Regions from separate parts of the Homo sapiens genome. Here region 2 is linked to region 1. A link means that fine-mapping ties the variant in region 1 to the expression of a gene that starts in the linked region. Tissue or cell type: fibroblasts. Region 1 holds a variant in brackets; the other region holds the start of a gene. All regions are shown on one strand. Distances are from middle to middle.

Region 1 (7,209 bases):
TCAAAAATCTCCACAGCAGATGGCCCCAGGAGACCAATTGCAACGAGATTCCTAATTAAATATAATTAAATAAGCATTAAGAGAGAGACTGATGCTCCCCTCTCCACATTACACCACTCTGTGCCAAAGAGTACAAAATTGAGAACGCCATTGTCCGCAAAAAAGCCACAAAGATCATTCAACTCCAGCCTCTGATGACCGAGCTGGGAAAACTGAGACCGGAGGGGCTACAAATTCAGCCAAGGTCTGCAGGATGTGGGGCTGACGACAAAAAGCTGACTGAGAAACTGACTCATGCACAAGTGCCCATTCTGGGGTCATGTTGTTAGCATCTAAAAGGCCCGGACACTTGCATGCTGGGCGGCCTTGGGCATGATCCTTTAGTCTCTGGGCCTCTTTTTCTTTCTTTCTTTCTTTCTTTTTTTTTTTTTTTAACTGAGTCTCACTCTGTCACCCACGCTGGAGTGCAGTGACGTGATCTTGGCTCACTGCAACCTCCGCCTCCCAGGTTCAAGCAATTCTCCTGACTCAGCCTCCTAAGTAGCATGCCACCACGCCCGCTAATTTTTGCCTTTTTAGTAGAGATGGGGTTTCATCATGTTGTCCAGGCTGGTCTCAAACTCCTGACCTCAGGTGATCCGCCCACTTTGGCCTCCCAGAGTGCTGGGATTACAGGTCTGTGTGTCTTTTCTTCTTCTAAGATCAGTGCCTTAGAAGTATGATGTGAATCACATCCATAATTTTTTATTTCCTAGCCACATTTTCAAAAAGTAAAAACAAATGGGTACACAATCAAAAGAATACAATTTTCGTTATACATTTTATATCACCCAAATCCCAGCATGTAATCAATATAAAAGTTATTGAGTACTTAACACTTTTTTTTTTCACCTCAAGTCTGAAATCTGGTGAATGTTTGACATTTACAACTTGTCTCTGTATGGACTGGCCACATTTCAAACGCAGTAACGAATGGTGACCATATTGGCCAGTGCGGGTCCAGAAGATGGGCCTGAGATAGTCTCTCACAGGTTGTTGTGAGTTGGGTTTTGTTTTTGTTTGTTTGTTTGTTTTTAAATAAACATGATGTGGCTGGGCATGGTAGCTCAGGCCTATAATCCCAGCACTTTGGAAGGCCAAGGTGGGTGGCTTGCTTGAGCCTAGGAGTTCAAGACCAGCCTGGGCAACATGGGGAGACCACATCTCTACAAAACTACAAAAAATACAAAAGAATTTAGCCAGGCGTGGTGGCATGTGCCTGTGGTCCCAGCTACCCGGGAGGCTGAGGTGGGAAGATTGCTTGAGCCCTTTCAAAGGCAGAGGCTGCAGTGAGTGGTGATTGCACCACCGCACTCCAGCCTGGGCAACAGAGTGAGAGTCTGTCTCAAAAAAAATAATAAAATAAAATAAACAATTAAGAAGATAAACATGATGTGAAATGTGCTTAGCAGCATCCTCACGTCTCATTAGCACCCAGTGAATATTAGCTACGATGATTATCAGAAAGCCAGTGTCCACACAGTTCATCCAGAAAGCACGACAGTCCATGGCTCCTATTTACCAAATCTTCTCTTTCAATTCCCTTCCACAGACACAACCCCTAACAGAACAACTGTGGGGGGAGGGATTTCTTTAGTCTCTGGGTAAAGCTATCAAAAACAAATGGCGGCTTCTCGAGCTCGCCCTTAAAGCAATCGGTGGATCCCAAGATTAAAATTCAACTGCAGCCAAATTGTGTTATAAACGGCTTCACTCCACCTGGGGTCTGGACGCCAGGCAGATGTAATCCCCTCTCCTGGGCATACACTGATGGAAACCCCGCCTCACTGCACCAGCCAAAGCCTTTAAATCAGCCGTTATTCCCGGCCTGACATGAGAGTTACAACAGGGTTTTACAGGCCCTCTGCAGGGCTCTCTAAATTTTGTGGCCGTAGCTTCCTATGGCTAGCAATCCAAATAAAAATAGTGCTATTGATCACAAAGGCATCAATAACGTCAGCCCTAAAGCTACCTGTGCACATTTCTAATTGTCCTGTCCTTTTTATGTCTTTAAATATTACCATAAGCTCTGAGAGATTCGCTACCTCTGATTGGGAAGAAGGAAATCACCCCCTCCGCTCAGTCCCAGGCATTGGAAAGCAGTGGGGAGGAAAACTCACGCGCTAGGAATAACTGTGAAGTCCCTTTTTGTAAAAAAGAAAATAAAACACTGGCTCCCATGTTGAGCTTGGCATTATAGTTCGTCAGGAAATGCCGCCCAATTATGCCTAATTTCTCATTGTTTTTCCGACCGGTTTGCGTCCCAGCAATTACGCCTCGTTCGCAGTAAGAGAAAAGTAAAATGCCCAGCTGGTAGACTGATCAGAAAGCCGACAGCCAATAAATTAATCAAGAAATAAGGAATGAATGCTGTGTTTGATGTTTGCAAATCACACATGTGGCTCTCCAGATGCTTGGACTTAATTTTTACCACCACAAAAACCAAGAAAGAGGAAACTGGGAGTGACTCCAGCAGCTAAGCAAACCCTCCCCAGCAAAGCAACTGTTCAGCTACCTCTGGAATCTTCTCACCTTCAGCATACTGCCAAGAAAAAAGAGCACCCCCACCCACCCACAAACCCCCAAGAGCCTTAGGCATGAACCTTTCTGGGGTCCACGCAAGTGTGTGCAATGTGGAAGAAAATTATGGGCTCCAAAATTCAACAAGAAAGCCACAAAATCAAAATTAATAAATGCTTCATTAAACGCCTGCCAACTATAGCAGTGCAGCCTCCTCACTGCTTGCTGGGTGCTGTATTGATGATGTCGTCGTCATAAAAACTGCATTACGTTTGAGAAAACCATTGCAAGAATGCCTAAGGATGCCTATTGGTTGTGGGGCAAATCACAGGTAATTGCAACTTTGATGAATTACCTGCTGCTAGATAATTTAAGAAGCAAAATCATTAAACTCCTTTCAAATATTTTTACTGCAAACAAACTATAGTTAGTGTGGGCGTATTTTAATTCGTTTGATACGATGGGGAACAAGGCTGCCAAATAAAACACCCCCCTGGACCTAACAAGAGGCCAAGGTGTGTGCAGGCTTAGGCCGCTCTTCAGGTGCCCCCCGGGGCTGGGGGCCCGCTCCCTCAAACAGGTAGCTCAGGAAGCCCTAGCCATCTGCAGGGATCCGGTGGCTGTGTTCCAGTAAAGGCCAGCAAAACATGTCCAGTCTCCAAAGGGGACGGACACCATCATCTTTGGCATTCATGTCACGCTTCAAAGGCCAGAGTCCCCCGCTCCCCCTCCTGCAATGAGCCACCCGTTTCTGCCGCTGCTCTCCTGCGTGTCCACGGCTGAGGGTGCGAGCTGGTAATTACATGCTCGCTTAGGCAGGGACGCTTCCAAGCAGCGCTGGAGAGCTGATTAACCACCTGGTTTGTGGGCACAATTCAAAGGGGCACCTGGGAGGCAGGCCACAGTGACTCGTAGCACGGTTGCCAGGCGGATGTGTGCACAAGGGAAAAAAATGCTCCCGTGTCAGGACAGCTCCATGCTCTGCCTTCCCAAGGTCTCACCCACTCAGCCAAAGACCCTGGCACTTTGAAGGTTCCCTGTGGACATGAAGGCACCCTGGAAAGGGCTGTGGGACCAACAGCTCCATGAATTGCCACCAGGGTGATTTTGCGCCCTCTCACCCAGAAGCATTTGGCAATGTCTGAAGACATTTTTGGTTGTTGCAATGGGAGAAGGGGCTGCTCACAGAATCCAGTGGGTGGGAGCAGGAAGGCTACTAAACCTCCCGTGATACACAGGTCAGTCCCCACCACCCCAGTGACTCAGCCCCAAAGATCCGTCCCCACCACCCCAGTGACTCAGCCCCAAAGATCCGTCCCCACCACCCCAGTGACTCAGCCCCAAAGATCCGTCCCCACCACCCCAGTGACTCAGCCCCAAAGATCCGTCCCCACCACCCCAGTGACTCAGCCCCAAAGATCCGTCCCCACCACCCCAGTGACTCAGCCCCAAAGATCTGTCCCCACCACCCCAGTGACTCAGCCCCAAAGATCTGTCCCCACCACCCCAGTGACTCAGCCCCAAATGTCAGTCGCACATCAGTTGAGAAACTCTGACTTAGAGAACCATCCAGACCCAAGCGGCCTGCCTCTTGAAGAGTCTTTCCTGGGGACTGCTTACAACTCAGGAGGGCAGGAGAACTGAAGGTGGGGGCCCTGACAGTACACCCAGGTCTCCAGGCTGGAGGAGAAACTGTGTGGGGTCTC[T/C]TGGGTTAGAGAAAACCTCCTTTTTTTTGGCAGCCCTTGGAGCTGGATGTATTTTTGATGGAATCAGACCTCAAATGAGGTTGTGAATCACCAACTTCAAGAAGAAAGAGCTCTCCCGTTATGCCCATAAGTTAAAGACGAGGCACCTTAGTGCTCTCCTCAGGAGCCTCAAACCTCCAGCGATGGGTTCCCTGTCTTTTCTCTCTGTGAGCAACATTCCGTCCTTTCATGTAGATTTCCCTTTTAAGGAGAGTTGGTTCTGTCTGGGGCCAGTTTAGATTATTTTTTCAAATAAAAGAACATCAGAAAAGATTAATCATAGCCCGAAATGGAAAGGGACGAAGCTGCAGCCTGTCGTGACCTTCTCGTTTGCTTCGTGATAGCCTGCCTAGCCTTGGATGGAGGCCGGGGCTGGAGTGGGTGGTGATTTTTTCCAAGTGGCCCTCAGCTCTGAACCTCACTCACTGCAGTGGCTGTGATAACTTCTTGGATTTATGAATAAAGTGGCAACCTTAAAAATATTCGTTTGGAGTTTCACAATGGAAGTAGTGATGATCAACACATTCAGCCACTGTGTGATCAGATATAATTTGGGGGCTGTTGGTGGAATTGCCTTGTGTTGGCAAAGGTATGAGATTAGCACTCTGAAAAAACAATAACTAATTCCCGTGTTCCTAGGAGCAGGGTAGATATTAACTCTATTTTCCAGGAGATGAAACTAACATAGAAAGGTTAGGCAAGCTTTGCCCTGCTCCACAGAGAACTGGCCCTGGAGTGGAAATTAGGACCCCAATGTTGCGGGCACCAAACAAGGGATCAAACCTTCATCCACATGACAAATTACAGCTTGAAAAATCCCTTCATCGGTGCTCAGGCCTGACAGCACCCCATAACCACTGATTCGAATGGAAATAAGGATGGAGAAGAGAGGAGAGGGCTGCAGAGGAGAAGGTGGGAGTGGGGAGGGCCCGGATTCCCAGCAGGCATGAGAGTGTGTGAGCTGCACTGAGAATTTCCCCTGATGCGAACCTCCAGCTTTTTTCTAGTTCCAAACACCCTCCTTGTAAATAGGAGGATCTGAGAAACATCTCTGGAAGCAAAGCCCCATCAGCCAATTCCAGGGCTTACAGCTCGGCTGCAAGATGCAAGGAAGAGCCACGATGGATGATTCTTAATGGTGGGAGAGGAGTTCTGAAAAATGACCCTTTGCTTTCTTTCATAACTTTTCAGGAAACGCTGCACAATTATCCTTCTCTTTCCTTGCTTAAAAGTTGAACTGAGCCATTAACCTCAGCAAACGAACACAGGAACAGAAAACCAAATGCCGGATGTTCTCACTTGTAAGTGGGAGCTGAACAATGAGAACACATGGACACAGGGAGGGGAACAACACACACTGGGGCCTGTGTAGGGGGATAGTGGGGGAAAGCATCATGATAAATAGCTAATGCATGTGGGGTTTAATACCTAGGTGATGGGCTGATGGGGGCAGCAAACCACCATGGCACACGTTTACCCATGTAACAAACCTGCACATCCTGCACATGGATCCCGAAATGTAAAATTAAAAAAAAAATTGAACTGAAATTAATTTTTTAAAAAACGAGCTAGTTGTAAAAGAAAACCATAATGTCCCACCAGTGGGTAATTTCTTCTTGATTAAAGATGGGGGCTGTTGATAAAGCTGATGCCCACTAACTTCATAACAAATGGAGATCCATGTCTCATGCTCTTTTATGACTTGAGCCTCGTCTGGATGGGTTTTCCGTGCAAGGAGGGAACATTTTAGGATGTGATTTTTCTTGTAAGAAAGTGGAACAAAGTAAACAGGAGTGGGATCACTGGGAATTGGGGGATGGGGGTGGGTACCGTGGATGAAGGTGGGTACCATGGTGGATCAGGCTGGCAAACCCCAAAACCTCTGAGGAAGCTTAACAGACAAACAGACATCACGTGGAATGAGGCAGTACAAGTATACAATGACAACTCTGATGAATTCTTGCCAAAAAAGTCAAATATGAACATCATCAAACTTCTAGATCTTACTGAGAGCTAGCTACAGGTTTGCAGGACACACAGGGGACAGAGGAACATATCAGAAGACACCATCCCATCAGCAAAATCAAGATTATGGCAAAGGCTACAGGATGGGTGATATGGTTTCCAATAGAAAAATAAGAAAATAAAAAAGGGAATGGAGATTCACTAAAGATTTCCAAAACCAAATCAACCAAATGCAATGTGTGGATCTTCTTTGGATCTTAATTTAAACAAAGCATTTATGAGGCCATCAATGGAATTGCAACATTGACTGGGTATTATATGATATTTTAAAATGACTGTCCATTTTTGAGGCACAGTAATGGTATTACATTGTAGTGAATGACTTGTGAATGAAATGATAGGATGTGTTCACTTTAAAATAGAGGTGGGGAGAGAATATGGGAATTCAGTGAAACAAGATTGGCATGTTGATAACGGTTTAAGCTGGGAGATGGTTACATGAGAGTTTACTATATGATTCTATTTTTTATAGACTCAAAAATTTCTGCAATGAAATATGGGAATTTGATGAAACAAGATTGGCATGTTGATAACTGTGGAAGCTGGGAGATGGGTATATAAATTTCTGCGGTGAATAATTAAAAGAAGAAAAGGTATCTAGAGATGGCAGGATAAAGAGACCAGCATCTATTTTCCAATGATTGACTGCTATAGACACCAAACTTCTCAAATGTCTGCAAGGGGCAAGTGACAGAAACAGGGATAGAGCAGTCAACAGTTCCAATAGGGCCCTGCCCTTGTGAAATTCAGCCTGGTGGGAGACATAGACGATAATCAAATAGTCACACAAACACATGACTGCACAATGGTGTGTGTTAGAAAGGTGAAATAGACAAAGCACACAATAGCATGGCCTAACTCAGTTTGGGGTTCAGGCAAA
Region 2 (7,209 bases), 28 kb after region 1:
AGACGTGACTTAACGGCCAACACAGAGCTGAGGCTTCTCCCCAAAACAGCCTTATGATTGCTGCCGTTTCAAAAGCTCTCAAGCGATTACTCGGTAAGAAAGAGGTCAGGAACCAAGCGTATATCACCCTTCCCTGAGCAAAATGCAAGATCTGGATAACATAACTTTTTTCTTTTTTTGATTAAAAATAAATATATGTTTGAAGACAATAAATGAGTTTTAGCTTCGGTTCCTTCTTTTGCTCTTGTTTGATCTGCTTGTGAGTTGAGGACAGCCTTGTTCAAACACTATTTGTCCATTTTCTTTGCTTTTTTCTATTTGTGGGGTAAAATCTGTGTTATCTCAACAGGGTCAGCTCACCTGCATTGCGCTTCTGTTTCCTCACCTGGAAAGTGAGGAACGCTGGACCCGTCAGTCTCCAGTGCCCTTTACAGCTGCCCACACCCTCCCAAGTGTCGCCCCATCACAAGGGTGAGGATGCAGCAGGCGCAGGGCCCACCTGTAACTCTCAGCCTCAACAGCTGGGGTTTAGCTAGGATGTAGAAAAAGCACTTTTTTTTTTTGAGACAAGGTCTTGCTCTGTCACCCAGGCTGGAGTGCAGTGGCACAATCATAGCTCACTGCAGCCTCGACCACCCAGGCTCAAGAGATCCTCCCACGTCAGCCTCCCGAGTAGCCGGGACCACAGGCATGTGCCACTACACCTGGAGGATTTTTGTATTTTTTCTAGAGATGGTGTTTTGCCATGTTGCCCAGGCTGGAGAGAAAAAGTACTTTGGAGTCGTGTTTCCCCCATTATTCACACACCTCTTCGAAAAGAAGCCGTTATTATAAAACAGGCCTTTTCTTTTGGGGTCCTCAGATTTGGAAAGGAGCAGAAAACCCAGTGAGACAGGACGTGTCCTGGAGACACAGCGCGGTGGTTGGAAGCAGGGATCCGGGAGTTCTGCCACCTTCCAGCTGCCTGGCCTCAGGACAGTGGCCCAAACTCTCTGAACTCAGTTGCCCCAGTTTGTAAAATGGCCTGACCGTAATTCCCACTTCTTGTCAATTTGTTCAGGTATAAAGTACATGCATATAAAGTACTCAACCTAACTAGTGCCTGGCCCATGCCACAGTCTCAATAATTATCAGCAAATCCTCTCATTTATAAATAAGCCAGTACAACTATTAATACACAAGCATCATACTTTGTGGAAAAGTTCGTATCTCTAACAGCAGTACAATAAGTTCTGAAAATACTGAATTATGACCCTATGTAGGACATCAATGTAACACCCATTCTCCCCACAAAATGCCACTAATGCGTGAACCCCCATCAGCCGCCTGGGACTTTGAAATACCCACATCCGGAAAGCCCAGAGACTGAAGTCTCAAATGATTATGGCCAGAATAGCATGTAGTTTTAACTTTTTTTTTTTTTTTTTTGAGATGGAGTTTCACTCTTGTCACACAGGCTGGAGTGCAATGGCATGATCTCAGCTCACTGCAACCTCCGCCTCCCAGGTTCAAGTGATTCTCCTGCCTCAGCCTCTGGAGTAGCTAGGATTACTGACGCCCGCCACCACGCCCAGCTAATTTTTGTATTTTTAGTAGAGCCGGGGTTTCACCATGTTGGCCAGGCTGCTCTTAAACTCCTGACCTCAGGTGACCCACCCGTCTGGCTCTCCCAAAGAGCTGGGATTACAGGTGTGTGCCACGGCACCCGGCCTTAGCATGTAGTTTTTAAACTACCCATAATTGTAAATTTTGTACATTGAAAGACCCATAATTGCCACAAATAATCACAATTATGCAAGTATAAATAATCACCCTGCACAACTCTCCTCTTGCCCACAAAGTTATCCCTTTCATGAGAATTTAATATGTGACAATGGCCATTGTCTGCCAGGGAAAGCTCATACCGATTTCAGTTTCAGCAAGGCCACCTCGAGTCTCATAGAAACCAGAAAAAAAAAATGTCATTTTCAGGAAGCAAATTGATCGTTTTCCTCACATTTCCATTTGCGTTAAGATCATGGTGTGGCCTTGCTCTGGACTTTTTCCTATTCCCTGTTGCCTCTGGAGAGGAGGAAAGCTAAGGATGGCTGGTGGGCCCACATCGGGGGTCCCTGGGTGGATTGAAGGGCTCTTGTGGCTCCTGGAAGCCTCGCCCAAGTTTCTGGTAAGAAATCAAAAGGTGAGGTGGTGTCCCCTGTTCCCCTGTGGGATGATCAGCCCACAAAAGTGGGACAAATGAGTCTATAAAATGCTTCAGAGGGGCAGGTGGACTGCTCACTCGTGAGTCCCGGGAAACAGGCCTGGCCCAGTTCTCCAAACCTTTCCCCAGGGAGACCGCATCTCTGTCTTCTCTCTTCTTCTCTCTTCTCTCTTGTTCTCTCTTCTCTCTCTTCTCTCTTCTCTCTCCCCCTCCCTCCTCCTTCCTGGTTCTCTTTTTTCTGTTGATTTCACTCCCTCCTTTCTTTTCCCTTTCTCTTTCCTCCCCTTTCTCTCTCTTTCTCTGCCTGTTTCCCCTTTCCTCACTTTCATTTCTCTTTCTGTCTCTTTCTTTCTCTCCCTCTCTCAGGTCTCTCTTCTCTGTCTCTCTTCATCCTCAGTTTTCCCCTCTCTCCCCTCTTACTTTCTTTCCCTTTTTCCTTTTTCTTTCCATCTTCTTCCTCTCCCTCTCTGGGTTCGTGGCAACACAAGGAAACCCGCACATCCCCAGCCCGCAGCCTCGCCCCCTCGGTCCCACTGCAGTTACCCGGTGATCCATGCAGGTGGGAACAATCCAGTTAACTTTTCCCATCCGAGTGATTCTCTTTCTCTTCTTCATTCATAAATGCCATAACTCTCCCGGTCCTCCTTTCCAAGGCTCGTGCACTTGATTTCAAGGCTTGCCTGCCACCCAGGGTGCCACCAGAGTCCCAGTGCCTGGGTTGGGGGCTGGAGCGCACCCTTTGGGATCCCCCAGCCTGTCCTCCGCCTCACGGCTGCCTCGCTTCTGAGCTGCCACCCTCAGCTGACTCACTCAGATGAGATTTGGGAGGGAGGGGGGCAGGAGGAGGAGTTGCGAGAAGGAGGAAAACCCGCCTGGTCGGGTCCACACTTTGCCTAGATGCGTTTGGGTGTGGTGGGGAGCGGGTGACGGCCTCATTTACAGACAGAGGCCGGGGCTGGCTTCTAGGCGACCGGGTTGGCCACTTTCACTGCGCTTCTGGGTTTGCTGGGATCCAAGTTGACGCGACTTTTCCAGGAGTAGCTGGAAGACCTGAATAGAAACTTCAGGGGTCCCAGGACTGGCGGGGCTTAGAGGAACTCCCCGCCCCGCTTGCCCTTCCAGGGAACGGCCTGGCTAGGGGTGCGCTTTGACGCAAGGAGCGCATCGCTCTGCCTTGGCCGGGACCAGAGCTTGGGGGAGGCCTCCTTGCCCACTGCGAAGACTTTGGGGAAGGCGACGGCCAGGGGACGGACATCTGGGGGAGGGCTGGGGGTCTGAATGGCAGGAGCTGCACCAGGGGGCTGTGCGCGCTGCGCGGGTGTGCGCGCCTCGCCGGGGGCTGTCTCCACCTCTTCTGGCAAGTTGGACCTATGAGTGCGCAGCTCCGCTTACAACTATCAACAGCCGGGAAGGCTGAGCGCGTGTGAGCGCCGAGGGGGGCGCAGGACCCTCGCAACTTCTTCGCAGGACTCCAGCCTGGCCGCCGGCGCCCGCAGCCGTCCGAGAGCCCTGCGCCCGCGCCTCCCCTTGCGCACCGTGGCAGCGCCCGGCGGGCGGTCCTGCCAGCCCCGACGGGATGCCCGCAGCCATGCTCCCCTACGCTTGCGTCCTGGTGCTTTTGGGAGGTAGGTGCCACCCTCCCCCACCCGGCAAACTGGCTGAGCTCGGAAGGGAGGGAGCTCGCCGTCTAATGTCCCCTAAGGGCCCTTGGGGACTACGGCCCTGGGTCGGCCCACGCGGCTGCTATGCTGCGCCCTGCGCGCCTTTCTCCAGTCTCACCTGGCCGGCACCTGCGCGCCTCCAGGAGCTTCCTGGGGCCTGCGGGAGGGAGTCGCGTCACCTCGCAATATGAGAGCCGCTGCACTCTCTGCGCCAGTCGGGGCCTGGCCTGTAGGTACCCAGAGCTGCCCTTTGTGCCGGGCCCAGTGGGACCGGGGCCTCCAAGAAGATGCAGGAGGATCCCAGGCCCACTGAGACCCCCATGGTGCGGGACAAGCCCGGCTATTCAGACCAAGGTTACTGGGGTTGTTTTTGCCCACGGAATCCTGACCTGTGCGGGGTCGGGGCTTCTTCCTGCAGCAGGACTCGGGGAGAAGCTAGGGAGCGCGCAGTGACCCCAGGCTCGAGTTGTGCCCAGCAGGCCTGACAAAGGGGACCAAGGGGCTTCAGGAACCCCTGGTAGAGTAGTCAATGCCTTCTCCAGGACTAAGGGGTTCCCTGGTGGCTCTTCGTGGGGGTGGGGAGTAGGGTAGACAAAACTGTACAAAGGCCAGCTGACTGGAGTGTGCCATCACAGGGGCCCAGTCACCACTGACAAAAATGACAGTAACCACAGTTGAAGTGTGCCCAGCTGGGGGCTCATCCCCAAGCACCCTCACATTATGAATGGCTGAGAATTCTGGCCCTGGAGTTAGACCACCTGGCTGGGAAGCCCAGATCAACATCATATCAACCCGTCTGGCTTTGGGTAAGCATGGCCATCGGCTCTCTCAGCCTTGACTTTCTTTCCTGTCAAATGGGCTCACAAAATCCCCTCCTCCGTCTGGGATGATTGTGAAGATTACGAGAGCACGTGCAGGAGGATCACTCCACTTGCTGCCTGGCACTGAGCTCATGTTCAGGGAATGGCAGCCGAGAACCCCGGGGTGAAGAGGGGCTGCGCGGTCCCACAGAGCACGCTCTGCTCCATGTATAGGCAAGGAGCAAAGTCTAAGTCACCTCGAGGAGCTCTTCAATCACAGTCTTTTCTTCCCAGCCCCCAAATTTCTAAACAAGCTGTTTTGAGAAGAACTGGCAGGGGTCTGAAGGAGGGTCAGGGGAGGGTGCCTCCGCAGTTTGAAGAGTTGCAGATTCACCTGTCGAAAGGGACATTCATCCAGGGGCCGCTTCCCCTGCCAGTCTGGGAGCGAGAGGTGACACAGCTGTCCTTGGCCACAGAGTTAGTTGATCATCAGCATGAAAATAGACCACCTCACCCCTGCTGGTTCTTTCGAAAGGGCAGGAAAATGCAAACTGGAAAGGGTGACAAGGGGGCCAGCTGTGGAAGCGCGCCTCTGCTGGGTGCTGAGATAGGGAGGACAGGATGGGGAAACCGGGTGTCCATCTGCTCTCATCCGCCTCCTCCAGGCCGTTGCACCCAGTGGGAATGGAACAGTCTAGAGTGGTGGGACACATGCCCCAGGAACCTGCAGTCTCAGTCACAGCACATGGCTGTTGTCTTTGGCAGGCCGGAGCTTCCCGTCATGCCAATGAAATCACTGTGAGTGTAGAGCCGTGGCTGGCTCTTGGGGAGTCTTGCTGCCCAGCTCCTCGGTGACCTTTCACCACAGCAAATCAGACAGATTCAACAGCAGAGAAGCCAAGAGTGCCCGGGGGCCTGACGAGAGAGGGGGGCAGCCTGCCCTCAATTCAGACACAGCCACCAGAAAGGGGGAGGGTGCCGTTCAGCCTGCCACTGCAGCTCCCAGCTCTACACCGGGCACTATTTTCCACTGAACGCTTCTTTGAAAAGCTCTTTTCACCGCTGGCTACATCACCAGGTGATGAGATCCTTTTGCTTTAGTAAAAGGAAACAGGACCCAGTTAATCCTTCAGCTACTGACATAATTTAGGTGCCTGAGCTGGGCACGCCTGAACTTCATGTCTCCAGGTTCCAGAAACTATATATATAATGGCACACCAGCCACCCCACCAAGAGAATTCAGATTGAGTACACACACGTTAGGGGTTCTTAACCTCGCCGCTATTGACATTTGGCACCAGAGGATTCTTTGTTGGGGATGAGGGGCCCGTCCTGTGCATTTTGGGGTGCTTAGCAGTATCCCTGCCCTCTTCCTACAGATGCCAGTTGCACCTCCTCCTAGTTATGATAACTGAAAATGTCTCCAGATATGACCACATGTCTCCAGGTGATAAAGTGGCCCCCAGTTGAGAATCACTGGTATGAACAGATCAAACCCAACAGGTAGTTTTTCAGACGAATCCGTCAAAATCACTGGGTTAGACGGATTTTGTTATTCTTGCTCTGAACGATCAGGAAATCAAAGGCACAGTGGGGCCCCAAGAAAAACAACATAGCTTAGGTAGTTTCTAATTTGGACGTTGATTTTTCCCATTTGCTCTCCCTCCCTCTTGTATCTGAACATGTCCGCATGGCGGCCGCAGGAGCCAGGCTGCGGTATGGGTAGTCACCCACTGCAGCGAACCTTCCTTCAAACCCTGTCAGGCCAGATGTGTCTGGTGCCAGTTCTCCAGCTGCCAGTGTTGGTTCACTCCACAGCAATTTCTGGCTTTTAAAAATCTCATTACTCAACAATTTATGCTGGAGGGGGAAAATGAGAAACCATAGCTGCTGCTTTTTTTTCGAACTTGTATTTTTTTTTTCTAATTTCAGCTCTGCTTTTATCTCTCGCTATATACTTTGCGATGGCAAGTTATCATTTACAGTCAGATTAACTAGGTCAAAATCACAAGCTATTCCATAATAAATTAGTTGATGTGGAGCTCTGCCTTGAAACCCAGAATAAAAACTAAGAAGAAAATTACTTAAATACACTCATCCAAAAATCTAATGTGAATAGAGACCCGTAATCGTATTAGTTACTTAAAACAAACAAAAAAAATTATCAATGGAGACTTCCTCTTGCTACTGTGTGAAGTGCTTCTCGAAGATGAATCACTGTGGCCAGCTGTGCCACTTATCTTCTGACCAAGGCTGTAATCTCAAAATTCAAAACAACCAGCTCCAGGCAAATACAGCAGCTTCCTTGATTTCAAAACCATCTGGATGGCAAAGCAGTTAGAAGCTACACGTGAAGAAATATTTTTGCAATATATTGGAAGTTAACTATGCTAATGAAAGCTTAAAGCCAGAATGAGCCCCTGATAAAACTTCCAAAATACAGTGGTTCACTGCCAAAACCAGCCTGGAAAATGAAGATCAATAGCCCAATGCAAAGGGAAGGAGAAGCCATTAAAATTGGTTTGAGCTTGAGGGCAGCTAAGTTGAG

Alleles and levels. Positions count from the first base shown, and alleles are read on the strand shown. Sizes are in standard deviations (SD) of each study's normalised expression.
For the expression in fibroblasts of the gene that starts at base 3,105 in region 2, allele C in region 1 goes with a higher level than allele T (moderate effect, 0.63 SD a copy in GTEx).

What was found. PIP is the estimated chance that this variant, and not a neighbour inherited with it, causes the effect.
Region 2: it holds the start of APCDD1L-DT, and the variant in region 1 is fine-mapped to the expression of APCDD1L-DT in fibroblasts (GTEx, PIP above 0.99). The same link has a PIP of 0.9 or more in damaged cartilage and subcutaneous fat.

Annotation. Positions count from the first base shown.
Region 1 is chr20:58,539,071-58,546,279 of GRCh38, reverse strand. The region is part of intron 5 of APCDD1L-DT (APCDD1L divergent transcript); the gene reads right to left. Among named protein-coding and RNA genes, the nearest start is that of APCDD1L, 27 kb to the right of the region's middle. RefSeq lists enhancers at 1-219, 3,498-4,697. The variant T/C (reference allele first, on the strand shown) is at 4,266.
Region 2 is chr20:58,511,275-58,518,483 of GRCh38, reverse strand. APCDD1L-DT (APCDD1L divergent transcript) reads right to left here and starts at 3,105. Exons shown (of 7, transcript NR_034147.1): 1 at 2,744-3,105. It overlaps APCDD1L (APC down-regulated 1 like), which reads left to right and starts at 3,085. Exons shown (of 4, transcript NM_153360.3): 1 at 3,085-3,825. The coding sequence starts at 3,777. RefSeq lists an enhancer at 3,484-4,482.